5 separate regions of the Homo sapiens genome follow, and regions 1, 2, 3 and 4 are each linked to region 5. Evidence: fine-mapped expression QTL. A gene starts in region 5. Each other region holds a variant in brackets. All regions are shown on one strand. Distances are from middle to middle.

What was found. PIP is the estimated chance that this variant, and not a neighbour inherited with it, causes the effect.
Region 1: its variant is the best candidate, but not a certain one, in a credible set for the expression of OXER1 in whole blood (TOPMed, PIP 0.78).
Region 2: its variant is the best candidate, but not a certain one, in a credible set for the expression of OXER1 in whole blood (GTEx, PIP 0.56).
Region 3: its variant is the best candidate, but not a certain one, in a credible set for the expression of OXER1 in whole blood (TOPMed, PIP 0.65).
Region 4: its variant is the best candidate, but not a certain one, in a credible set for the expression of OXER1 in prostate (GTEx, PIP 0.60).

What each region holds. Positions count from the first base shown.
Region 1 is chr2:42,690,764-42,695,869 of GRCh38, forward strand. MTA3 (metastasis associated 1 family member 3) reads left to right here. Exons shown (of 17, transcript NM_001330442.2): 10 at 5,002-5,076. Among named protein-coding and RNA genes, the nearest start is that of OXER1, 71 kb to the right of the region's middle. The variant TCTCTCC/T (reference allele first, on the strand shown) is at 2,318.
Region 2 is chr2:42,712,819-42,717,924 of GRCh38, forward strand. The region is part of intron 14 of MTA3 (metastasis associated 1 family member 3); the gene reads left to right. It also overlaps the pseudogene RNU6-137P. Among named protein-coding and RNA genes, the nearest start is that of OXER1, 49 kb to the right of the region's middle. The variant T/C (reference allele first, on the strand shown) is at 2,219.
Region 3 is chr2:42,675,439-42,680,544 of GRCh38, forward strand. The region is part of intron 8 of MTA3 (metastasis associated 1 family member 3); the gene reads left to right. Among named protein-coding and RNA genes, the nearest start is that of OXER1, 86 kb to the right of the region's middle. The variant G/A (reference allele first, on the strand shown) is at 2,095.
Region 4 is chr2:42,592,615-42,597,720 of GRCh38, forward strand. All of the region lies in intron 3 of MTA3 (metastasis associated 1 family member 3), which reads left to right. The region is part of intron 2 of LOC105374555 (a long non-coding RNA gene); the gene reads right to left. Among named protein-coding and RNA genes, the nearest start is that of MTA3, 27 kb to the left of the region's middle. The variant C/T (reference allele first, on the strand shown) is at 2,656.
Region 5 is chr2:42,761,381-42,766,486 of GRCh38, forward strand. OXER1 (oxoeicosanoid receptor 1) reads right to left here and starts at 2,755. Exons shown (of 1, transcript NM_148962.5): 1 at 1,119-2,755. The coding sequence starts at 2,682. The coding sequence ends at 1,528.

The sequences.
Region 1 (5,106 bases), 71 kb before region 5:
TGCCAGGTTCAAGTGATACTTCTGCCTCAGCCTCCCGAGTAGCTGGGACTACAGGCACACGCCACCAACCCCAGCTAATTTTTGTATTTTTATTTTATTTATTTATTTATTTATTTATTTATTTATTTATTGAGACAAAGTCTCACTCTGTTGCCCAAGCTAGAGTGCAGTGGCGCGATCTCTGCTTACTGCAACCTCCACCTCCCAGGTTCAAGTGATTCTCCTGCCTCAGCCTCCCAAGTAGCTGGGACTACAGGTACACACCACCATGCCCAGCTAATTTTCTTATTTTCAGTAGAAATGGGGTTTCACTATGTTGGCCAGGCTGGTCTTGAACTCCTGGCCTCAAGCAATCCGCCCGCCTCGGCCTCCCAAAGTGTTGAGATTACAGGCGCATGCCACCAGCCCCAGCTAATTTTTGTATTTTTAATAGAGACGGGGTTTCACCATGTTGGCCAGGATGGGCTCAATCTCCTGACCTTGTGATCTGCCTGCCTCAGCCTCCCAAAGTGCTAGGATTACAGGCGTGAGCCACCACACCGCGGCCTATGAAATACTTTGATACAGGCATGCAATATGTAGTAATCACCTCTTAGAACATCGTACACACACACACACACATCCCCCCCTAAAACTTAATAATTAGAAAACTGCATTTTAACTTCATTCCCCTTTTTAACTTTTTGTTGATTCTGTGTCTTATTGTACTATGTTTTGGAAAGTTGTAGTTATTTTTTTTTATTAGTTCATCATTTAGGCTTTGTGCTTAAGACAAGTGTAGTTTACATACCACAATTACAGTGTTATAATACTCAATGTGTTCTTCTGTGTACTTACTATTACCAGCAGGTTTTGTACCTTCAGATGATTTCCTCTTGCTCACCAACATCTATTTTTTTCTGATTAAAGAACTCCCTTTAGCACTTCTTATTGGACAGGTCTAGTGTTGATGAAATCCTTCAGCTTTTGTTTGTCAGCAAGTCTTTATTTCTCCATCACGTTTGAAGGACATTTTCACTGGATATACTATTCTTGGGTAAAGGTCTTTTCCTTCAGCACTTTAAATATGTCGTGCCACTCTCTCCTGGCCTGTAAGGTTTCCATTGAGAAGTCTGCTGCCAAACGTATTGGAACTCCATTATAAGTTATTTGTTTTTGCTCTCGTTGCTTTTGAGGTTCTTTCTTTATCTTTGACCTTTGGGAGTTTGATTATAACCTTATTGAATATCGATGTTAATATTTTTCTCCAGGTTTGGGAAATTCCCTAATATTATCCCTTTGAATAATCTTCCTGCCCCTCTTTCTCTACCTCTTCTTTAAGGCCAATAACTCTTAGATTTGCTCTTTCAAGGCTATTTTCTAGATCCTATAAGCAGGCTTCATTGGTTTTATTCTTTGCTTTTTTCTCTCCTCTGACTGGGTGTTTTTCAAATAGCCTGTCTTCAGGCTCAATAATTCTTCCTTCTGCTTAATTAGTTCCACTATTAAGTGACTCTGATGCATTTTTTCAGCATGTTAATTGCATTTTCAACTCTAGAATTTCTGCTTGATTCTTTTTATTTCAGTCTCTGTTAAATTTATCTGACAGAATTCTGAATTCCTTCTGTCTGTCATCTTGAATTTCTTTGAGTTTCCTCAAAACAGCTATCTTGAATTCTTTTTTTTTTTTTTTTTCTTTTGAGACAGAGTCTTGTTCCGTCACCCAGGCTGGAGTGCAATGGCGTGATCTCGGCTCACTGTAACCTCCACCTCCCGGGTTCAAGCAATTCTCGTGCCTCAGCCTCCCAAGTAGCTGCAATTACAGACATGCATCACTATGCCTGGCTAATTTTTTAGTATTTTTAGTAGATACAGGGTTTCACCACGTTGGCCAGGCTAGTCTCGAACTCCTGGCCTTACGTGATCCTCCTGCCACAGCCTCCCAAAGCGCTGGGATTACAGGCATGAGCCACTGTGCCCAGCCAGCTATTTTGAATTCTCTGTCTGAAAGGTCACATGTCTCTGTTTGTCCAGCATTGGTCCCTCCTGACTTACTTACTTTGTTTGGTGAGGTCATATTTTCCTGGATGATGCTTGTAGATGTTCGTTAGTGTCTGAGCATTGAAGAGTTAGGTATTTACTGTAGTCTTCACAGTCTGGGCTTGTTTGTGTCCGTCCTTCTTGAAAAGGCTTTCTAAAGGACTTGGGCCTCAAGCCCAATATCACTGTGGTTTTTGCAGACTCAAAGTACTCCCTTGGTAGTCTCAGATTAGATCTGGAATTCTCTGGATTACCAGACAGACTCTTGTTCTTTTCCCTTTCTCTCAAAGAAACAGTG[TCTCTCC/T]CTCTCCCTCTCCCTCTTCCCCTCCCCCTCCTTCCTTCTCTCCCCACACCCCGTCCCTTGAGCTACCTGGAACTGGGGTGTGGTGACACAAGCACTCTTGTGGCTACCACCACTGGGGCTGTGCTGGGTCATGCCTGTCGTAACTGCTCACTTGCTACCACCTATGCTCACTCAAGGCCCTAGGGCTCCACAATCAGCAGGTGGCAAAGTGAGACAGGTTTGTGTCCTTCCCTTCAGGGTAGTGAGTTCCTCCAGGCCCTGGTGAGTCCAGAGATGCTGTCTGAGAACCAGGGATTGGAGTCAAAAACCTTAGAAATTTGCCTGATGTTCTATTCTGCTGTGACTAAGCTGAGACTCAAACCACAATATAAAATCCTTCCTGCTTTTCCTTCCCCTTTCCACAGGCAGAGGGGCCTCCCTGTGGACACCAACACCCAGCCACTATTGGGGGTGGGGGTAGTTCTGCCAGGCCACCTCCAATGTACACTTAAAGCCCATGGGCTCTTCATTTTAGTCAGCTGGTGGGGAATGCTGTCCGGCCTGGGATCACCCTTCAGGGCACTGGGCTCCCCTCTGGCCCAAGGCAGGTCCAGAAATTCTGTTCAGGAACTGAGGCCTGAACCTGGGGACCCCAAAAGCCTGCTTATTCCTCCACCCCACTGTGGCTGAGCAGTAACTAAGGTGCAAAACAACAACATCCCTTTACTTTTCCATCTTTTTAAACAGAAGAAGCCTTTCACCATAGCCACCTATAGCTGGGAATGTGCTTGGGAATGTGCTGGGTCACACTGTAGTCAGCACATCTCAGAGCCCAAGGCCCATGGTGTACTACTACCCAGGCATTGCTGCTGGTTACTCGGGGCCCATGGGCTCTTTAGTCAGCAGCTGATGAATCTTGCAGGGACTGGGTCCTTCCTTTAAGGCAGCAGGTTCTGTTTTGTCCAGATGGTGTCTAGAAATGTGTATAGGAGCTAGGGCCTGGAATGGGGGCCTCACGACTCTGCCTGGTGCCCTGTCCTACTGTGGCTGAGCAGGTATCCAAGATGCAAGACAAAGTCCTCTTTACTCTTCACTTTCCATCCCTTAAGCAGAAGGAAGGAGACATTTTTGCCCCTGAGCTGTACTGCCTAGGTTTGGGAGAGGGGTGGTGCAATCACTCCTTTAGCCACCCTGGGTGTCTCCCTAGGTCACATGCCACCCGAAGTCCTCTGGCTCTGAGTCCAGCCCAGCACTAGGAGTTGTTTAGGAGTTGAAGTCCTTGTGTACCTAGGCTGTCTTCTAAGTTTACGTAGGTCCTCAGAGCACTTCAGCCCATGGTCATGAGGCTTGTTGAGAAACTCAAGTTCCAACCGATAGGATAGGTGATTACCCTCTGGCTAGGTCTGGTACAGATTCTCCCTCCCTACACAGGTACTGGCTGACCCCAGCATGGATTTATTCTCTGCTGTCACAGGGCAGCACTAAGTTCAATGTAAAGTCCCCTGGTCACTGTGATGTTCTTCCTCCATATGCACAGACTCTGGCACTGCAAGGCCTCTGCCAGGGGATGGGAGAGGGGTGGCATCAGCGATTCAAGACGAGACTGTCTCTCCTGTCTTCCTCAATGCCTCTTTCAAGGATTTGCAGAGACCAGATGACACACAGTCATAGCTGCCATCTTTGGAAGCTGAAATAACTCAGGCTAGAGCTGTTTAAATGCCGTTTCTAAAATAGTGCTGCAGCCCCACCTGTAGCTTGAGAACTTTCCCAAGTAAGTCATGAAATGTTATCAGGGCTGGTCACGGTGGCTCATCTGTGATCCTAGGACTTTGGGAGGCTGAGGTGGAAGGATTCCTTGAACCTAGTTGTTCAAGACCAGCCTGGGCAACATAGGGAGACCCCAACTCTACAAAAAATAAAAAAGAATTAGCCGGGCATGGTGTCACACCTATAGTCCCAGCTGAGGAGGCTGAGGCAGGAGGATCACTAGAGCCTGGGAGGTTGAGACTGCAGTGAGCTGTGATCATGCCACTGCACTGCAGCCTGGGTGACCCTGTCTCTTAAATAAAAAGAGAAAGAAATGTTATCAGTTATGATGTTTATAATTTTTAGTAAAATGTATAAACGGAATGAGAAATGGAATGTGTTGTATTCACATTCCATACTGAATATGACTTGTTTGGGGTACCGTTTGCTAAGGATTAATTTTAAATTTCTCAAATATTCTAGAATGAATCTTCCATGTGGATATTTGCTTCATTATTTTAATAAAGAAGTGGTTTTTAAGGGCCAGGTGTGACGGCTCGCACCTGTAATCTCAGCACTTTGGGAGGCCGAGGCGGGCAGATCACCTGAGGTTAGGAGTTCGAGACCAGCCTAACCAACATGGTGAAACCTTGTCTCTACTAAAAATACAAAAAATTAGCTGGGCATGGTGGCATGTGCTTCTAATCCCAGCTGCTTGGGAGGCTAGGCAGAAGAATTGCCTGAACCCAGGAAGCGGAGGTTGCTGTGAGCTGACATCGCGCCACTGCACTTCAGCCTGGGCAACAAAGTGACAGTCTATCTCAAAAAAAAAAAAAAAAAAAAAAAAAAAGAAAGTGGTGGTTTTTAAGGAAAGTACTTTCTATAGTAGCTTATTTTCATCTCATTTTATTATATGTTAACATAGATGATAGGTTGATTTTTTTTTTTTTCAGCTTCCTTGGAAATCATTGACTAGCATCATTGAATATTATTACATGTGGAAAACTACTGACAGATATGTGCAACAGGTAATTTTTTTCATATTGCTACCAATATGG
Region 2 (5,106 bases), 49 kb before region 5:
CACAAATTAGTGAAGTGTTCCATATTTTATTAAAAAAAAAAAGTTAGCCGTCTTTTCTTTTTTCCCCCCTGAGGTCCCTCCCCCTAGTAAAAAAGCTATGTATGGGAGAATGACGTTCCTCTGTTATTGTCATCAGACGTTATTTCAGAGACTTCACCAAAGATCTACAGAATCATCCAAACACCTGATGCACACAGGATTATCAGCACTTGAGACTCAGGATCCTCACAGACTGAGGTTAAATAGAAGTAGGTTTACTAGCAACATTCCAAAGATGAAGCTAAAGTGCCTGGAAAAGTAAATCCGGATGATTTGCCTGGCACCTTGGTGGCTTGCAGAGAGAGTGAAGTGGTTTGGGCTGATAACATACCAGACTTGAATGGGCCACAGTATTCCCCTGTATGAGGTTATTTGGGAGGAACCTGAAGCTATTTTTCTGTTTGAAGAAGCTAATTTGGCTTTGGAAGTATCTCAAGACCCCACTTGATGAAAAATGTGTTTTATGAGATTTTTCTAGAGATTTCTCAGCTAAAGTTAATGAGTATAAGCTTTTCTGAAATTTTAAGCTTGAATCATGAGAGAATAGTTGGTTTGCTTCTTTTGGTATTTTTGGTAGAGAGTTTAAATTTTTTTTTTAGTATGTGCCTTGTGGTATAAGCCGAGGGAGTTTAATAAAAATTTGGTTTTGAATGGATACTGAAAAATTTTTCTAAAGGTACAAAAGTGGTTACAAATCTCATCACGTTCCTCATTCCTGATTTACCCCATTCAATGATAACCATTATCATCGTTGCCTTAAGTATCCAAAAAATATTCTGTGCATCTATAAGAGTCTAAGTAGGCTTATTGTTTGTTTCTATATGATATTAACATACTGTCTATATTGCTCTGTCCCTTGCTGCTTTTTACTTAACATACCGTGCCACTGTATTGAAAACTGCCTCCTTTTTGTGTCAGCTGCATAATCTATTTTGTTGTACCATAACTAGTTTCCTATTAAAAGCTTTTAAGTTATTTTCAGTCATTTTCTATCATAAATAATGTTGCAACAAATATCCTTATGCAGATATCATTTCATACTGATGTATAAAATGGGAATGTTCCTTACAAGATAGATCCCTAAAAGTTAAAGTTGGGGCCAAGGAGCATACATTTTGAATTTTGGTGTAGTTTTATTGCCCGTAGAAAAACTGCAATTCACAGTCCCACTCACAACATCTAGACAATTCCTATTTCTCTAGAACTTTGCTGGCAGTGTTACCCATCTTTGAAACCCGTGACTAATTGACAGATGACAAGTTATATTAGCTTGCATTTCTCATTTTGAATGAGATAGAAATCTTTGCCTATATTTGAAAACCATTTATCTCCTTTTCTGTCAACTGTTTTTGCCCGTGGCCTGTTTTCTATTGGCAGTCTTACTGACTTGTGGGAACTTTTTATATTTTAACAAAGTTATCTCTTAATCTGTGATATGTGATACAAATAGTTCCCCCGTTTTCTCTTTGACTTTATGGTGTATTTGCCAAGCAGATTTTTTTTTAAAAAAAGACATATTAATAGTTGAATTTATAAAAAAAAAATCATGAGTTTTGTGGCTTCTTTAAAAATACCTTTCCAGTTCTAGAAGCAAACTCTACTGATAGTTTTATCTTGACAGGGTTCTTGAATGCACATGTGGGATGTTTTTGTGAATTCTGTGTGTATATTGCAGGGTTTCCATCTCACTGCCCCCAGTATTTCCAAAACACTGTAGAAAAATAACCATGAGTTTCAACAAAAGTAATAGTGTATTTCTAGGTTAACCCCAAGGAAATATAGATCATCCTCTAGGACAGTGGTCCCCAACCTTTTTGGTACCAGGGACAGGTTTCATGGAAGACAATTTTTTCATGAACTGGGTGGTGTGGGCCGTGATGGTTTTGGGATGAAACTGTTCCACCTCAGATCATCAGGCATTAGTTAGAGGCTCATAAGGAGCAGGCAATCTAGATCCCTCGCATAGCGGTTCACAATAGGGTTAGCGCTCCTATGAGAATCTAATGCTGCCACTGACCTGACAGGAGGCGGAGCTCAGGCGGTAATGCTCACCTGCTGTCCGGCCCAGTTCCTAACTTGCTACCACTAGTACTGGTCTGAGGCCTGGGGCTTGGGGACCCCTGCTCTAGGAAACTAAAGACATGTTCCTTGTGACCAGTCAAGTGACTTGAGTGAGATA[T/C]AGATGTTCTCTCTGGACAGGTTTTGATTCCTTCTGGGTTCTTTGGGGATTTCTCAGATTGCTTTCATTATCTGTGACTTCAAATGCATATCTCCCTGTTGAAGTGGAGTTAGGTGAGTAATTTGGGAGCAAGGACTGTCTGACAAGTGGCAGCATTGTTGGCCTGGCATTGAGTGCAGCCCAGCATTCCTTCTAACCAACTCAAGTGTGGGCCAGACAATCCCACCTATGGCTATTTCCTCAGGGCCAACTGTATTTTTCCTACTGAATGGCAACAACTTTTCTTATGTTAAAGAGTGACTAAGGCAGTCCTAGAATCTTTTCACTCTAATTTTTTCACAGTTGAGACATAATTCTTGCCACCAACTACTTTTTTTTTTTTTTTTTTTTTTTTGAGACAGGGTCTTGCTCTGTCACCCAGCCTGGAGTGCAGTAGCGTGATCATGGCTCACTATAGCCTCTAACTCAAGGGATCCTCCCTCCTCCTCCTCCTGAGTAGCTGGAACTTTCTATAAAATATTATGAGGATTAGTGAAATATGCTTCTTTCTAAAAAGCTTTGATCTCCCATTCAGAGGTACTCTGTAATGCAAATTGTCACTTAGAACATCATATAATTAATCCTCCTATTTTTAATGAGAAATTAGAAGCAAATATAGTTTAAAATGAAGTATCTTTGGGTATTGTGTTGGTGACCTCTTTGATGGATTTGTTGATGATAGCCATCAATGTCTATCAATTGCTGCCATATTGGCAGTTTTCCTTTGGGTCATCTAGACTGGAATAAAAGGCAAATCTTATTACTAGTAATATGGTGATTGCCTTTGTCAAGACATTGAGGAAATAACCAAGATGACTCATTCCAGCTTTATTAATAGAGAAGAAAGAAAAATTTATCTTGTCCTTATCCCAAATATAACTTGAATTTCAGGTGAATCAGTAATATTAGCAAGAAATTATGTAGTGTTAACTCAATGGTTTGGCAGGCGTTTGATCCTTACAGGCTTTGGGTTGCTTCCTAGTGTTTATTTAGATTACTCTTCCACAAGATGTTTATTATATTTCTGCCTGTATCTTCACTATTATTCAACAATAGGTGAAAAGCTTCATAGCTTAGTAATTTATTTTTTCTCCTGGGAATCACCTGAATAGGAAGAAAAGAAATTGGATCATTTATACTTGTCAGTGGTTGCATAATAATTAGCCAATATCTGGGTGCTATATTTTCAGATTCCTGATTGTTTTAGGCTCTCTGCAGTATGTGCTTTGTCTATTTTAATGTTTTTAAACTTATTTTTTAACTTTTAAAAAAGTTCAGGGGTACATGTGCAGGTTTGTTATATAGGTAAACTTGTGTCAAGGGGGTTTGTTGTACAGATTATTTCATCATCCAATTATTAAGCCTAGTACCCATTAGTTATTCTTCCTGATACTGTCCCTCCTCTCACCCTCCACCCTCCAATAGGCCCCAGTGTCTGTTGCTCCCCTCTGTGCATCCATGAGTTCTCATCATTTAGCTCCGACTCATAAGTGAGAACATGCAGTATTTGGTTTTCTGTTACTGTATTAGTTTGCTAAGGATAGTGGCCTCCAGCTCCATCCATGTTCCTGCAAAGGACATGATATCGTTCTTTTCTTCTGGCTGCATAGTGTTTCATGGTGTACATGTACCACATTTTCTTTATTCAGTCTATCATTGGTGGATATTTAGGTTGATTCCATGTCTTTACTATTGTGAATAGTGTTGCAATGAACATATACATGCATGTGTCTTTATGATAGAATGATTTATATTCCTTTGGGTATATATCCAGTAGTGGGATTGTTGGGTGATAGTTCTGTTTCTAGCTCTTTGAGGAATCACCACACTGTTTTCCACATGGTTGAACTAATTTGTATTCCCATCAACCGTGTATAGCATTTCTTTTTCTCTTCAACCTGTTTTCTCTGCCAGCATCTGTTATTTTTTGACTTAATGATAGCAATTCTGACTAGTGTGAAATAGTATCTCATTGTGTTTTTTTTAACCACAATGAGAATTTTTAAAAAATGCTCTTTTGCCATCTTCGGTTTAATAATTTTCAGAAAAGAGTTTTTTTTTTTTTTTTTTTTTTTTTGGTGAAAGGGCTAGAACTCATAAAAACCTAACTTTTATTTAAAATTATTTGAAGTTCCAGACTTGCACATTTTAACTCTAGTAGAGCAAATAATTCCTGTGGGTATCAAAGGAAATTCCCTGTGTGTATGCCCAGAAATGTCTCAGTTTGCAAAAGGAAAAATTCTTCAGTAAATCAGAAAACCTGTAGGACATTTTTGTCAAATATTTGAAGGTGGGAAAAAGGCATAAACATAGTAGAATCATACAGGTTAAAGTGATTCTGTTAATATTTATGACAGTATTAAAGTGTTTCAATACACGTTTTGTTTTGTCCCTTTGTCTTGCACATCTACTCTTCCAAATGACAGCTAATTAAAACACAGAATGTTTGTATTGTATGCTTTATTTTTGTCTGAAAATGTCTTACAATAGGGTATAATGAGCATCATGAAAACTGATTAGCTAATACCCATCCTCACTGTTTCTTACTGTTCTGACTGTTGGATGAAATACTCTGTTTGCACACAGGTAGCCTTTTAAATCTCAGCACCAATGAATGACATAGCTTGATCAGGGTTAGAAAACCAGTGATAAAACCAAATGGCCCATTATTACTCTTGCAAATCCCTAGCCTAACAATTGAGTTTTGCCAAGATAGGTTAAGCCTTCACAGTGGGGAAGGGATGGCCAAGTATGGCCCATCTAGGTCAGAGATGGCGAAGTTTGTTGCCTTTAGCAGCTGTCATTTATCTTCCATGTCATTTCAATCTTACGTTAAGACTGATTCCACC
Region 3 (5,106 bases), 86 kb before region 5:
AATTCTTTTTCTTATTTTAAATTGAGGTATACATATGGTAACATATATAGAGTGCCCTACAGTTTGTTACACAGCTTAAACATTTTTACCTGTGTATATATTCGTGTAACCACCACTAGATGGTAAAGAACATTACCAGTATCTCAACAGCTTCCCTTCTGCTCCTCTCCAGTTAGGAAATCACTATTCTGCCTTCTCTAACAATCAATTAGTTGTTCATTTTTTCAAACTTCTCTGGCATTTCAAATTTGTGTTATCTTACTGATAAACCGCAAGTCGTTGGTCCTGTGTTATGTTACTGTGTCTTTTCCTAGCTTATTTTCTTTATTTACCCTACATTTTCTCTACTGGATTTTGTCTCTTCTGTTATAGAAACTGTATTCATGTAAAGCTCTTAAGGGTAAGATTAGACTACGTAAAGTCCATTCAAAAGAAACTTCTGTGTGTATCAGAAAGATGGGGTTTATATGGACTTCTGGCACATAATATGATTCTCTGGTTTCCTTTATGAAGTTGGTCAGTTTCAAAGGAATTATTTCCTAGTAACTCCACAGTGTACACACCTGATGAGTGTTTACTTTCTACACATTCTGAGCTTTACTCTCCTCTCCTTTGGTCTTTGGTATAAATGTGCGCTTTGGAGGTTTCATATCTCCTGGTGAACAGTAATTCCAATGTATTCTTTCTCATTTGATTTGAGACAGTACAGGAGCTCCTCCTCTGAAAGCAAATGGTTCCTTCAGTGTTCAGGAACACAAACTAAACACTAAAGAGTAGAACCTTTGAAACAATGAATATAATCATTTTTTGTCATAATCACTTGATGAAGGCTAAGATACTACTTCAGTTCTTTGAAGCCCTTTAGGTAACAGCCCATCATCATTTAAAAAAGTATCCATAAGAAAAGCAGTTTCACTCATTTAACATGAACACAAAACTGAAAATCCATTCATGATTTGAGTGGTTGGTGTAGCATCAGCTGAGAAAAATGCACTTAATTCTGTGACTGGTTTCAGAGCCCCTGTTAATTATAAAAATTTCTTTTGGCTAGATGCAGTGGCTCATGCTTGTAATCCCAGCACTTTGGGAGGCCAAGACAGGCAGATCGCTTGAGCCCAGGAGTTGGAGACCAGCCCGGGCAACATGGCAAAACCCTGTCTCTACTGAAAATACAAAAATTAGCTGGGCATTGTGGCATGCACCTGTAGTCCCAGTTACTTGGGAGGCTGAGGTGGGAGGATCATCTGAGCCCAGGAGGCAGATGTTGCAGTGAGCTGAGATCATGCCACTGCACTCCAACCTGGGCAACAGAGTGAGACCCTGTCTCCAAAGAAAAAGATAAATTATTTTTATTTTGAGGAATTTTAGCATTTTTGAGTATCTTTTAATCTTTTAGTTTTTTCATTTATTGTAAATTTAGAAGGTTTAAAAAATAATTGTTTATGGGATTATTAACTGAAAAGGTCCCTAAATGCTATTGATCTTTCTTTTCATTTTCATGAGGTTAGTTATTAAGAAACAATAATTACAGTAGTCTTTCTTTTCCAAGAGAAGATATATTTCAGCACCCTCAGTGGATGCCTGAAGCTGAGGATGGCACTGAATCAGACTTTTTTTTCTCTACACTATACCTAACATAAGGTTTAATTTATAAATTAGGCACAGTAAGAGATCAACAAGAATAATCATAGAACAATTATAAGAATATACCATTATAAAAGATATGTGACTGTGCTTCATATGGTTTGGCTCTGTGTCCCCACCCAAATCTCATCCTGTAACTCAATAATTCCCACGTGTTGTGGGAGGGACCACCGGGGGAGATAATTGAATCATGGGGGCAGGTCTTTCCTGTGCTGTTCTCGTGATAGTGAATAAGTCTCATGAGATCTGATTTATTTTTTTTTTATTTTTTATTTTTTGAGATGGAGTCTCGCTCTGTCACCCAGGCTGGAGTGCAGTGGCGCAATCTTGGCTCACTGCAACTTCCGCCTCCTGGGTTCAAGTGATTCTCCTGCCTCAGCCTACTGAGTAGCTGGGATTACAGGCATGTGCCACCATGCCTGGCTGATTTTTTGTATTTTAGTAGAGATG[G/A]GTTTTCGCCGTGTTGTCCAGGGGTGGTCTCAAACTCCTGAGCTCAGGCAGTCCGCCTGCCTCAGCCTCCCAAAGTACTGAGATTACGGGTATGAGCCACCGTACCTCGTCCTGATGGTTTTAAAAATGGGAGTTCCCTGCACAACCTCTTGCTTTTTGCCTGCTGCCATCTATGTAAGACGTGACTTGCTCCTCCTTGCCTTCCACCATGATTATGAGGCCTCCCCAGCCATGTGGAACTGTAAGTCCAATAAACTTCTTTCTTTTGTAAATTTCCCAGTCTCAGGTTTGTCTTGATCAGCAGTGTGAAAACAGACTAATACAGTGCGCTCCCTCCCTGTCTCTCTCACACACACAAATATCTTACTGTACTATATTCATCTATTTTCAGACCACAGTTGGCTACGGGTAACTGAAACCTTGGAAAGTAAAATCATGAATAATGGGGTACATACTACATTGTATGTACAATGGAGTTGATGTAGAAGTGTGTAAAAGTACATACTACAGCTAAACTACACAGTCTGTCTAGTTAGCTTAGCTGCAGAATTTAGCTGATTCTGAAATTTGCAGAGCAAAAGCTGAAGAACCAAGATCAATTCTTGTGTTTTGTTTTTTTTTTTCAACCTCTGCTGCAGAAGAGTGAGAGGAAATTCACTTCAAAGTTGGAAGTCATTGTTCCATGGTTGTGACACATACAACAGAAGACTACACATGGCCAGTGGCCTTTGTTATGATTATAACTCGGAAATTGTTCATGAAATCCCTACTTCTGTTTTGTGAAAGCCAATGATTTATTTTTATTTTTATTTATTTATTTTTTTTGACAGATCCTCACTCTGCCGCCCAGGCTGGAGTGCAGTGGCGTGATCTCGGCTCACTGCTACTTCCACCTCCTGGGTTCAAGTGATTCTCCTGCCTCAGCCTCTTGAGTAGCTGGGATTACAGGTGACTGCCACCACACCCAGCTAATTTTTGTAGAGACAGAGTTTCACCATATTGGCCAGGCTGGTCTCAAACTCCTGACCTCAAGTGATCCGCCTGCATTGGCCTCCCAAAGTGCTGGGATTACAGGTGTGAACCACCGCACCTGGCCCCAATGATTGATTTTAAGTGAGATGTCAACCCTTGTTAAAGCAGTTATTTACTGTACCTAAACATGTTTACATGTTCTAAATACTGCCGTTACTCGGTGAACAAATTCATAATCTATACCCTTATCATTATCTTAGTTAATGCATCACTGTGTGTGTGTGTATACATACATATACATACATATTAATGCATACTTTTGCTAATAATGTTTTCACTTTAATAGATGTTAGTTGACATTTGAGCTCTCCTACAGTCTCCTACCAGATAGTGAGGGATCACTTAAAAGCTATTTTAAAAAAATACAAATAAGAAATGATCTTTCACATACATTCTCATTTGACCCTCACAAGCCTGTGAGGTAGGCAGCATGGATATTCTTCTCATTTAACAAACAAGGAAAGTGAGTCTCAGAGCAGTTAACTGATCTGGTGCCCCAGGTTCTACAATGAGCAAATACCTTGTATTATTATCAGTCTTTGACCTAAAAATTCAGCACCCAACTTCCCCTCATACTTGCCCTACCTACTTCACAGGAATAATGAAGGTAAAATGAATTCTAGGCTAGAAAAATACTTTGAGAGAAACATCACTGCGATTATACTTAGAAAGTATAATTTTCCATGATATTATGGCTCACTCCCCTTCTCATCCCAACTTGTGCGTGAACCCCAGATTTTATATTGCCTTTGTTCTGTGCTCAACTAAGGCGGGGAATAGTGTGATTCTGTTTAAAGTTATATAAGTTACAATTGGGGTAACCGCTATCATTAAGCAAATTGAAAACCGCACAGAAAGGCCAATGTGCAACTAGGCTTCACTAAAGCACAGAGTGAAGCAAGGAAAGATGATCAGATAGGGCATGATAGCCTAGAAGGAAAACGTGGTGTCAGACTTCTGACTGGCACACACAGTTACCTAAGGCACAGTGGTGGCAAAGAAGAGTTATTTGTTCCACATTATATAAACAAGAACAGAAGATTCATGGGAACCCATGCAGAAGCATCTTGTGTCACACAGATCTCTCCAGCTGCCTACAGGAAATATAAACAACAGTGCCTTCTTCATTTTAAAGAATGGCTGTACTCGTTTTTTAAGCTACACCAAGGATTACCTCCATGCTAAACTTCATTGGCAAAAATACAACCAGCACCATAGTTCCTCATCAGACAAACAGAATATCTTTTAAGGTAATGAATTAGATGGCTGTGTGTTGTTTTTTTTTTTCCCCACTTTGGATTCTTTTCTTTAAGACTCAAAACAATTTACATTGAGTATTTATAGATGATTCTAAGTGTGTTTATAATAAAGTGTGGTAGGTGAATGTAACAGATTAAAAGAATTCTGTAGCATCTATCTAGAAAAGATTATATAATATACAAACTATTCAAGTTATACAAAACCATTTTTTAGTGTCTTTTCCACTGAGAAGAATCCTATCTGGCACACTTCACCTGAGGTCGTTCATATTTATCTTTCATTTCTGTCAATTCTAGGGGAAGCACTTCTATTTCTGGATTTTCTGGGATAGCAACTCCTAAGTGATGCTTTAAAAAAACCAAAGCAGTATTAGGTTTCTCTGGTTCTTTTCTAAGGCTACCAGCACCTTCGTTCAGCACCCCAGAGCCCTAAGCACCTCCAGAATTGCTTGATCTTCGAGTTAGCAGTGTTCTAATGGGCCATAGTGACAGCTGCAGTGGCATAGCTGGCACTGAGACCTTGACTGGTGGCGGGCTTGGAGATGCACGACTTAAGCCAAAAGCTAAATTTTTAAGAGTTCTATTGTTGCGTAGAAGTGAAGCTATCCCCATTTGTGAAATTTTTAATAAGTAGCAGGAGATACTTTGCGTAAAAGGTGCAAGACTTTAAGTTTATGTGTTAGAAAGTCTGGGTGGGGGTGAGAGGTGGGGAGAAAAACAG
Region 4 (5,106 bases), 170 kb before region 5:
TTTATTAACAATGAAAACATAAACATATATATTAGCTTAGGCCTACACAGGGTCAGGATCATCAATATCACTGTCTTCTCAGTCCACATCTTGTCCCACTGGAAGGTCTTCAGGAACAGTAACACACACGGAGCTATCATCTTTGATAACAATTCCTTCTTTTGGAATACCTTCCGAAGGACCTGTCTGGGGCTGTTTTACAGTTAACCTTTTTTCCTTAATGAGTAGAAAGAATACACTCTAAGACAACAATAGGCCAGGTGCGGTGGCTCACGCCTGTAATCCCACCACTTGGGGAGGCTGAGGTGGGGGGATCAGTTGAGGTCAGGAGTTCGAGACCAGCCTGACCAATATGGTGAAACACTGTCTCTACTAAAAAATAACAAAAGTTAGCTGGGTGTGGTGGCATGGGCCTGTAATCGCAGCTACTTGGGAGACTGAGGCAGGAGAATCGCTTGAACCCAGGAGGTGGTGGTTGCAGTGAGCCGAGATCATGTCACTGCACTCCAGCCTTGGCAACAGAGCAAGGCTCTGTCTCAAAAAAAAAAAATTAAATAGAATTAAAACAACAATAAAACATATAGTATATTGGCCAGGTGCAGTGGCTCACACCTGTAATCTCAGCCCTTTGGGAGGCCGAGGTGGGCGGATCACTTGAGGTTAGGACATTGAGACCAGCCTGACCAACATCGTGCTACTGCACTCCAGCCTGGGTGACAGAGCGAGACTCTGTGTCAAAACAAAAAAAAGTATAGTATAATAAATACATAAATCAGTAACATAGTCATTATCTATGTCAAGTGTTAGTACTGTACATAATTCTATGTGCTATACATTTATTTGATGGGCAGTACAGTAGGTTTGTTTATACCAGTATCATCACAGACATGTGAGTAATGCTTTGTGCCATGATATTACCGCTATAGTGTCACTGGGCAGTTGGAGTTTTTCAGCTTCATTATAACCTTAAGGGACCGTTGTTCATATGTGTGGTTTGCTGTTGACTTAAATGTTATGTGGTGTGTGACTATATATGTCATTTAGTACTCGGAGGACTATGGCATCTATCTTTATTTATTTATTGATATGGAGTCTTTATTTATTTACTGAGACGGAGTTTTGCTCTGTACACTACAATGGAACCTGTGAATAGCCACTGCATTTCAGCAGCCTGGGCAACATAGCAAGACCCCATCTCTATAAAAAATAAATGGTTATATGCATTGTGATTTTGACAGATATTACCAAATTAATTGCTTCAGATATTCTTCCAATTTACACCTACCAGCAATGAATGAGTGCCCATTCCCTTCCATTTTTACCAGTATAGGATTAAGTTTTTTTTTTTTTTTTTTTTTGAGACGTCTTCTTTTGTCACCCAGGCTAGAGTGCAGTGGTGTGATCTCAGCTCACTGCAACTTCCCCCTGTCAGGTTCAAGCGATTCTTCTGCCTCAGCCTCACAAGTAGCTGGGATTACAGGCGCACACCACCATGCCTGGCTAATTTTTGTATTTTTAGTAGAGGTGGGATTTCACTATGTTGGCCAGGCTGGTCTTGAACTCCTGACTTCAGATGATCCACCTGCCTTGGCCTCCCAAAGTGCTAGGAGGGAGCCATGCGCCAGGCCCCTTTTTTTTTTTTTTTTTTTTTAAAAGACAGTCCCTAGGCTGGAGTGCAGTGGCATGATCTGAGCTCATAGCAACCTCTGCCTCCCGGGCTCAAGCAATTCTTATGCCTCAGCCTTCTGAGTAGCTGGAATTACAGGTGTGCACCACCATGCCCGGCTAATTTTTTGTGTTTTTAGTAGAGACAGGGTTTCACCATGTTGGCCAGGCTGGTCTCAAACTCCTGACCTCAGGTGATCCACCCAACTCGGACTCCCAAAGTGCCGGGATTACAGGTGGGAGCCACTGCACCAGGCCTAGGATTAAATTTTTTAATCTTTACTAATCTTACAGATTAAAAATGGTGCCTTGGTGGGATTGTATCTTAAATTTCTTATGACTGAAGTGGAACATCTTTTTATATATATATATAAATATATATATACACACATATATAAATATACATATATACATATATAAATATACATATATATATATATATATATATATTTTTTTTTTTTTTTTGAGACAGAGTCTCACTCTGTTGCCCAGGCTGGAGTCCAGTGGCGCGATCTCAGCTCACTGTAAGCTACACCTCCTGGGTTCACGCCATTCTCCCGCCTCAGCCTCCCAAGTAGCTGGGACTACAAGAGCCTGCCACTACGCCTGGCTAATTATTTATTTATTTATTTATTTATTCATTTATTTATTTTTTAGTAGAGATGGGGTTTCACCGTGTTAACCAGGATGGTCTTGATCTCCTGACCTCATGATCTGCCTGCCTCGGCCTCCCAAAGTGCTGGGATTACAGGTGTGAGCCACCACACTGGGCCATAGTTATCTATTCTTATTCAAAACCAAGGTAGTAAGGCTAAACAGGAGCTTCATTTTTTTTTTTTTTTTTTTTTGAGACAGAGTCCCGCTCTGTCACCCAGGCTGGAGTCCAGTGACGCGATCTCAGCTCACTGCAAGCTCCACTTCCCAGGTTCACGCCATTCTCCTGCCTCAGCCTCCCGAGTAGCTGGGACTACAGGTGCCTGCCACCATGCC[C/T]GGCTAATTTTTTTGTGTTTTTAGTAGAGATGGGGTTTCACCGTGTTAGCCAGGATGGTCTCAATCTCCTGACCTCGTGATCTGCCTGCCTCGGCCTCCCAAAGTGCTGGGATTACAGACGTGAGCCACTGTGCCCGGCATGTTTTTATATTTTTAAAAGGCCACATGTGTGTCCTTTTCTGTGAACTGTTTATATTCTTTGCCTATTTTGAGTTTAACTTTTGCTAAATTAATTTGTAGGGGGAAAATAATAAAAGAAACCTTTAGTTACTCCAATAAAGGAAGTAAAGCAGATATTCCTAATTGTAAACTGACGTGTTTAACCTTACATTTTTCCGTGACTTCTTCTCCTATTAGAACAAGGAAATACATTTTACTTAGCTTTTCTTCTTTCCTTGTCCTCTACCTTCCCATGTTTAAGTAAACGGTATTTGGGTATATATATATTTTTTCAGATCACATAGGACTGGAAAAAATTTTAAAAATTATTATTGTAACTTTTTACTTAGTAACTTATGACTTAGTAATAAGTTACAATAATGATTTAACAATAATAGTAGGAGCTAACACATAATACCAGACACTCTAAATGCTTTTACATGTAAGTCCATTTTATTCTACATGTAAGTTAAGTCCATCTTACATTATATATGTCCCCATCTAAGTTTCTGAAAGCATTTGTCTGTGATTCATTCTGCCCAGTTTTTGAAATCTTAATACTTCCGAGAGAAATACTAAAGAGAGAAGGGAAAATAAAAGAACAATAAAAGGTCATCCTGGCATTTGAAAAACTTTTTCTTATTTCTAATTTTGTACTTCAGTCACAAAGTTTATTAGGAATAAAGCTAAACATAGTTGATTTTTAAGATGTGTGTTGTATTTTCTTATAACATTTTACATTTTGAGAACATAGCCCATGGCTTTTTGTTTCTTAGTCTATGAAGTGTGTAGGCACATAGACCTCAGTCAGCCTGCTACTCTCCTTTTGCAGCCAGGGCCCAACCAAGATACTGAGTCCTTACTCTGCCCTTGGGCCCACTTGGTCCTTTCTAGCCAGCTGTTACCCCTTGATTGGAGTTGGCATAAAATCTATTTTTTATCACAGCATTAAAGTAATCAACTTTCATTTAAAAGGACATTTTTCTCTTGCTATTTTATGGAGTTTTTATTTTTGTAAGTGACATTTTGTAATTGGCAGTTATGGCAAGTTTGTGTCTCATTAACCAGATTATTATCAACTGTAAATATTATAAAGGTTTATTATTTGACAAGTTAATTATGTTTTATGATATACATTTTCTTATTGATCTGGTCTTCTGAATGTTAATGGTTTATATTTTTTGTGAACAAAGCAAGTACTGTATTAATACTTTAAAATTGATGTCACATTGCTTATTGATCATTAAATGAGGCATTCCAGCAATTAGATATTCTTAAGCTTTTTAGAAAGCCTTGTGTTAGCTTTACTTCTGTCATTGTGTGGCTTAATTTGTGGTCTGGAAGAATACAGGCTCATGTTGTATATTTTCATGTGACTAGTTGATTGAAAATCCTTAATTTTTTTTTTGCTGTCTGTGGACTTACAGAATGAAAATCATTTTTATACTTGAAGTAGCTAATCTAAAATTTTCCACAAGTTATCTTTTTTTTTTGGAGACAGAGTCTCGCTCTGTCGCCCAGGCTGGAGTGCAGTGGTGCGATCTTGGCTCACTGCAACCTCTGCCTCCCGGGTTCAAGCAATTCTCCTCCCTCAGCCTCCTGAGTAGCTGGGACAACAGGAGCAAACTGCATTGCCCGGTGAATAATTTTTTTTTTGTATTTTAGTAGAGACGGGGTTTCACCTTGTTGTCCAGGCGGGTTTCGAAATCCTGAGCTCAGGCAATCCGCCCACCTCGGCCTACCAAAGAATTGGGATTAGAGGCATGAGCCACTACACCTGGCCATCTTTTTAAAAAATTATTATTATTATTATTTTTGTAGAAATGGGGTCTCACCGTGTTGCCCAGGCTGGTCTCAAAGTACTGGTTTCATGTGATCCTACTGCCTAATCCTCCCAAGGTGTTGGGATTACAGGAGTGAGCCACTGCACCTGGCCGACAAGTTATCTTTTTTTTTTTTTTTTTTTTCTGTTTTTGAGATGGAGTCTTGCTGTGTTGGCCAGGCTGGAGTGCAGTGGCATGATCTCGGCTCACTGCAACCCCCACCTCCTGGGTTCAAGCAATTCTCCTGCCTCAGCCTCCTGAGTTACTGGGATTACAGGCGTGCACTACCACGCCCAGCTAATTTTTGTATTTTTAGTAGAGATGGGGTTTCACCATGTTGGCCAGGCTGGTCTCAAACTCCTGACCTTGTGATCTGCCCGCCTCAGCCTCCCAAAGTGCTGGGATTACAGGTGTGAGCCACCTCACCCACCTGTTTTTTTTTTTTTTGAGATGGGGTCTTGCTCTGTTG
Region 5 (5,106 bases):
CTCTCCCTTGATGGGAAAAGACAGGACTGCAGACATGCCTGCAAACCATGGGAGTATCTGTCCATTTCCCTTCCATCAGGTCATGAAGGAGTGAGGGCAGGTGCTGGGAGAGGTGCGAGGACTTGAGGGAGGAGTTGGTAGGAGAAGGGTCCAGGGAAGAGGAGATTGAGGAAATGGCCCGTGGAGCTGCCCTGAGCCCAGGTGGGCGCATTCAGGGGCAGAGATGGTACCAGAGGAAAGGTGCCTGGTGTTGAGCTGGCGGTAAGTGTTGGCGCCCCAGGTGGGGATCCACCCGAAGGAGCTGCTCAGTCCCCATCCTCCAGGAGTGTGCAGGCCTTTCCTAAAAGACCTGACTCAGGCTGAGGTGGCCCCGCCCAGGGTTGGACTCCCTTCCCTGTGGTGACAGAGGGCGTGGAGAAGCAGGGACCCCCTAGGCGTGGCTCCAGGGAGTAAAAGGGAGCAGTAGGAGTTGAGGGGGCAAGAGGGGCCCATGGGGAGCCGAGAGACAGAAGAGCAACCCTGGGGGGGGCCCAGGTGGCACCCCAGTACCTTGGTAGGTTTCTGAGTGCAGCAGGTAGATTTTCAGAACAGGGAAGTGGGCTGGAGATACACGGTGGAGGCGGGGTCTGGTACTCACCCGCTCATCCTTCCCGGGCCCACCTCCCTCTGCCTGATACTTTTTCTCTCGCTCCCTCCCCAGCATCCACATGGACCCTTGATGCCACCCTCCTGGTCTGTGTGTGACACTTCTGGGCTTTCACTTCTATTCCTGACGACTTTAGTAGCTGGGGTGCGTCCTGTCCATGATATGAGAGGGCTGGGCTAAGTGGATTGAGGGAACTGGGGAGGGATGTTAGGTCCCCAGCATCAAACTCTGTACCCGAGGGCCTGGAGCCCTGGTGGCCTGCCTGAGGCCTCACCCAAGAAAGCAGTTCTGCCTTTCAGGACATGCCGGGGCTTCCCAGAAGTTCTGGGAAGGACAGTGCCCCCTGGGATGGGGCTGTGGGATGGCTTCCCCACTCTCTCCCAAGTTTCCCTTCACCTTGGGGCGCTCACTTTGACGCCTACTGACAGTCCCAGGTTAGAATTAAAGACAGATATTTGGTCTTGCAAATAAATATATTTAAAAGGGAAGTTTATTAATATTGGAAGGGACAAACTGGAGAGCACAGAACATGCAGCTGTCCAATTTCTAAGGTGACTCTGCTGTGACAGTGATTGGCGTCTGTCCCCTGCAGCTGCGCAGGCCCCTGTCTGAGCTGGTGTGCCAACGGCACCTTGCCTGTCTCCTCCACCCGGCATCCTGCTCTCCCCTGCATTCTGGGAATGCCATCCTGGACACACTGAGAGGCCTAGGTGGGTTTCTCTCCCTGCCACCCACCTGAGTCCTGCCAGTGCTTTGGCCTGGCCCCTGGTCTGCCGCCATCCCTTGTCCAGTTGGTTGAGGCACCGTGTGCTGGCCTTGTCCCTCCAGGCCAGAGCGCGGCAGCCCTTACCCCCACAGCGCTGCAGCCCTGCAGCTGGCCCTCAGCCCTGGGAGGAGCCTTCCTTTTCCAGAGAGACCTCGCCCTGCACTTTCAGCTTCCCTATGGCCTCCGCCTTCCTAGAGGCCTCCCGGTAGCGCCACTGCCTGGAGGGTTGGTAGGAGCTCTCGTCGCTCACTGGGCCCTGCCGGCCCCGCGTGAGGCCCAGCAAGGCCCGGCTCTGGTGGAGGAAGTTGGGGCTAGAGAAGCAGTAGAGCACGGGGTCCAGGACACTGTTGAGGTAGGTGAAGGCCAGGGAGCCATGGAAGAGCTGTGTGCAGAGGTCCAGGGATCGGCAGGCGGACAGCCAGAAAGCCACCATGGAAGCCATGCCAAAGATGATGCTGGGCAAGAAGCAGATGGTGTAGACGGCCACCACCATGGCCAGCACACGCATGGCCCTCTGCGGGCCTGCCTGCCCGCCCAGACCACGGTTCCGGATGGTGAGCCCAATGCTCACAATAGCAAAGAGGATGAGCGCCAGTGGCAGGAAGAACTCCAGCAGGTACAGTGCCTGGTGCCAGCGGAGCGAGGCCGAGGGCTTCGTGCCCACCCTGTAGCTGAGGCAGGAGGGGCCGGAGAAGGTGCTCAGGAGCAGGTGCCCGTTGAGGAGCAGGATGCCCACCCAGAGTCCCCCGGCCACCCGGGCAGCTGCCCCCACGGAAGCACGGCTCAGCACGTGGTGGGGCTGCACCACCTTCAGGTAGCGGTTGAGTGCGATGGCTGTGAGGAAGACAACGCTGGCCGTGCGGTTGGTGGACAGCATGAAGAGGTTGACTTTGCAGGCAGCAGCCCCAAAGCGCCAGGTCTCATGGAGGAGGTAGTAGTCCACGCGGAGGGGCAGGTTGCTGATCAGGAGGAAGTCAGCGGCCACCAGGCTGACCAGGAACACCGTGTTGGAGGTCCAGGGCCGCGTGTGGATGCAGAAGATGAAGAGGGCCAAACTGTTCCCCACCAGGCCCAGGACAAACTCCAGGGCCAGGATTGGTGCCAGGAAGGCAGACACCAGCGAGGAAGAGGTGGGGTGGCAGGGCCCTCCAGAGGACCCCCCCACAGTGGTAAAGGCAGAGGGAGCAGAGGAGGGTGAGGGAGAGAAGGAGGGAGGGAGAACAGAGGAGGAGAGAGAGGGAGATGGAGAGCTCAGGTTATGAAGTTCCATGGGCTGCTTGGGCCATGGGCCTGAGAGAAGGTTCTGGAGTCTTCTACCCCTGCAGGAGTGCTCAGGGCAAAGTGGGATGATTGGCACTATCAGCTGGCCACCACGGTGACACAACATCCTGGGGTTTTCATCAGCATTCTCGCAGCCACTGAGAAACACCCTGTGTTCCTGTTTGCAGGCCAAGGGGAACCCTGCAGCCCTCCCTCCTTCCCTCCGCCTCGGGGTACTGAGTGATCCCACCACATGAGGTCTCTGAGCCCAGCCTGGGGGTTGTGCTGCTGGTAGAGGAGGAAGCAGGGCTCAGCAGGGGCAAGATGGAAGCCCAGAGAAACCCTGAAGTGGGAGGATAGTCCAGCCGGGTGAGGTGGGGGCTCTCAGGATCATGCAGCCCTCCCTGGACACCCCCTCCTCCACTACATATAGAGGCTGGTGGCTGCCTCCCTGCCCCCACCAGCTCTGGCTTCAGGGACTGTGGAGCCAAAAGGACATTGTCCTGAGAGGTAGGCAGGGAGTCAGTGAAGACCTCCACCGCCCTGCTGGTGGCCTGGAGGGAACCAGTCCTATTTGTGCTCCGCCAGCCTGCTGTGTGTCTGAAAGCCCACTGTAGTTCAGCTTTCAGTTGCTCCCAGGTTCCTGATGGTTCCGAAGTCTGTGATGGTCCCAAGTCCGGGTACACGGTGAAGTAGGCCCCATGGACGGGGACGCCCCTGCCAAATTTCTACTGCCATGGCACGGGGAGCTGGGGGCTTCTCCCGCAAATAGAACAATCCTGATTTTTCCCTGTCTGTGTCTCCCCATGGCTCCTTGTCCACTCCACTCCTTGCCCCCATTAGCATTCACTGCGGAATAGGGAGTGGGAGGCTGGGGCTAGCTCCAGACAAGGTACAAGTCCAGCTGTCCCATGGTGAGGTATTCTCATGAGCCCATGGGCTGGTCCTGTGGGTGGAGATGAGGGCTTCAGGCTCCTGATAACCCGGGACAGCAGGGCCAAGGGAGGTGCTGGTTCCAGGCTCCAGGGCCTGACCCCATCACTGCCAACTGGCTGGGGTCAGCAGTCTGCCATGTGTGGCCTGGCCTCTGTGTCCCAGGCACAGTGGCCCCTGGCCTCTCTTGGCTGCCCTGGGCTCCCATTTGGTCAAGGCTGAGGGCAAACATCCCTGGGAGAAGCAGGGTGGTGAGGCCCAGCCTAAGCTCCATATGCAGACAGGCCTGGGTTGGAAACAGAGCTGCCCTATTTCCAAACCTCTCTGAGCCTGATCTGTAAAATCAGGCACTACCACCTTCTTGGAGAGTTGTGAGGATAAAATGAGATAATTTATGTAAAAACTTATAGGCCAGGCACAGTGGCTTAAGCCTGTAATCCCAGCACTTTGGGAGGCCGAGGCGGGCAGATCACGAGGTCAGGAGATCGAGACCATCCTGGCTAACACGGTGAAACCCCGTCTCTACTAAAAATACAAAAAAAGTAGCCGGGCGTGGTGGCAGGTGCCTGTAGTCCCAGCTACTCGGGAGGCTGAGGCAGGAGAATGGCGTGAACCTGGGAGGCGGAGCTTGCAGTGAGCTGAGATCGCGCCACTGCACTCCAGCCTGGGCAACAGAGTGAGACTCCGTCTCAAAAAAAAAAAAAAAAAAAAAAACAAACTTCTAGGGGATTCCTTGGGACAGAGCGAGTGTTCACAAAAACAGATCTAATTTTCATGACTTTCTCTCTGGATTAAGCTTGCCCTGCATATGAGAGTAAACTCTTCTCTTCACGGCCATCGGTATTCTGACCTGGGTCCTCCCTGGAACATTCTATGTCTTCTTCTCAGGTCCTGCACGGAGCAGTGCATTGCTACAGGCCAGGAACGAGCCGCGTGGAGCCTCTGCCTGTGCCTATCCTGGACCATTTGTGTTTGAAGGAGCCTGATGGTGTTTTTTCTTTGCTTGCAGGAGAGGAAAGCCCTTAGGGGTGACGAGGAGGTTGAAGGTCCCGATGTCTCTTAGGGCCAGTAGCCTTTTCAGCAAAGGCAGGTCTTTCTCTGCTCCCAGTGGAGTGTAGGAAGGCAGTGAGCCACTGGGCTGGGGATGAGGGAGACAGGGGTCAAGTGTTCTTTTCTAGAGGAAGCTTTGAGTCCACGCAGGGACCTGTTCTGTCCAGATCTGTCACTCTCATGTGCATGCCCTCATTGACTTCTCACGGAAGTCCCAGGAAACTGAGCTGCGCCCGCTGCAGGTTCCACATTCTTGTCTCTTCCCACTGGTGCCTCTGAGGCCTCCAGCATCCCTAGACACCCATAGCAGGCTCAGGGGTCCCTCTGGAGTCTTTGAACAGGGCACCTGTGCATGACAGGGGAGGGAAGGGGACACAAGGCCAGACACCCCCACCAACACTGCTGAGCTCCTGGTACAACTTCATGCCCCTCTCCAGGCTGATCATAGTCT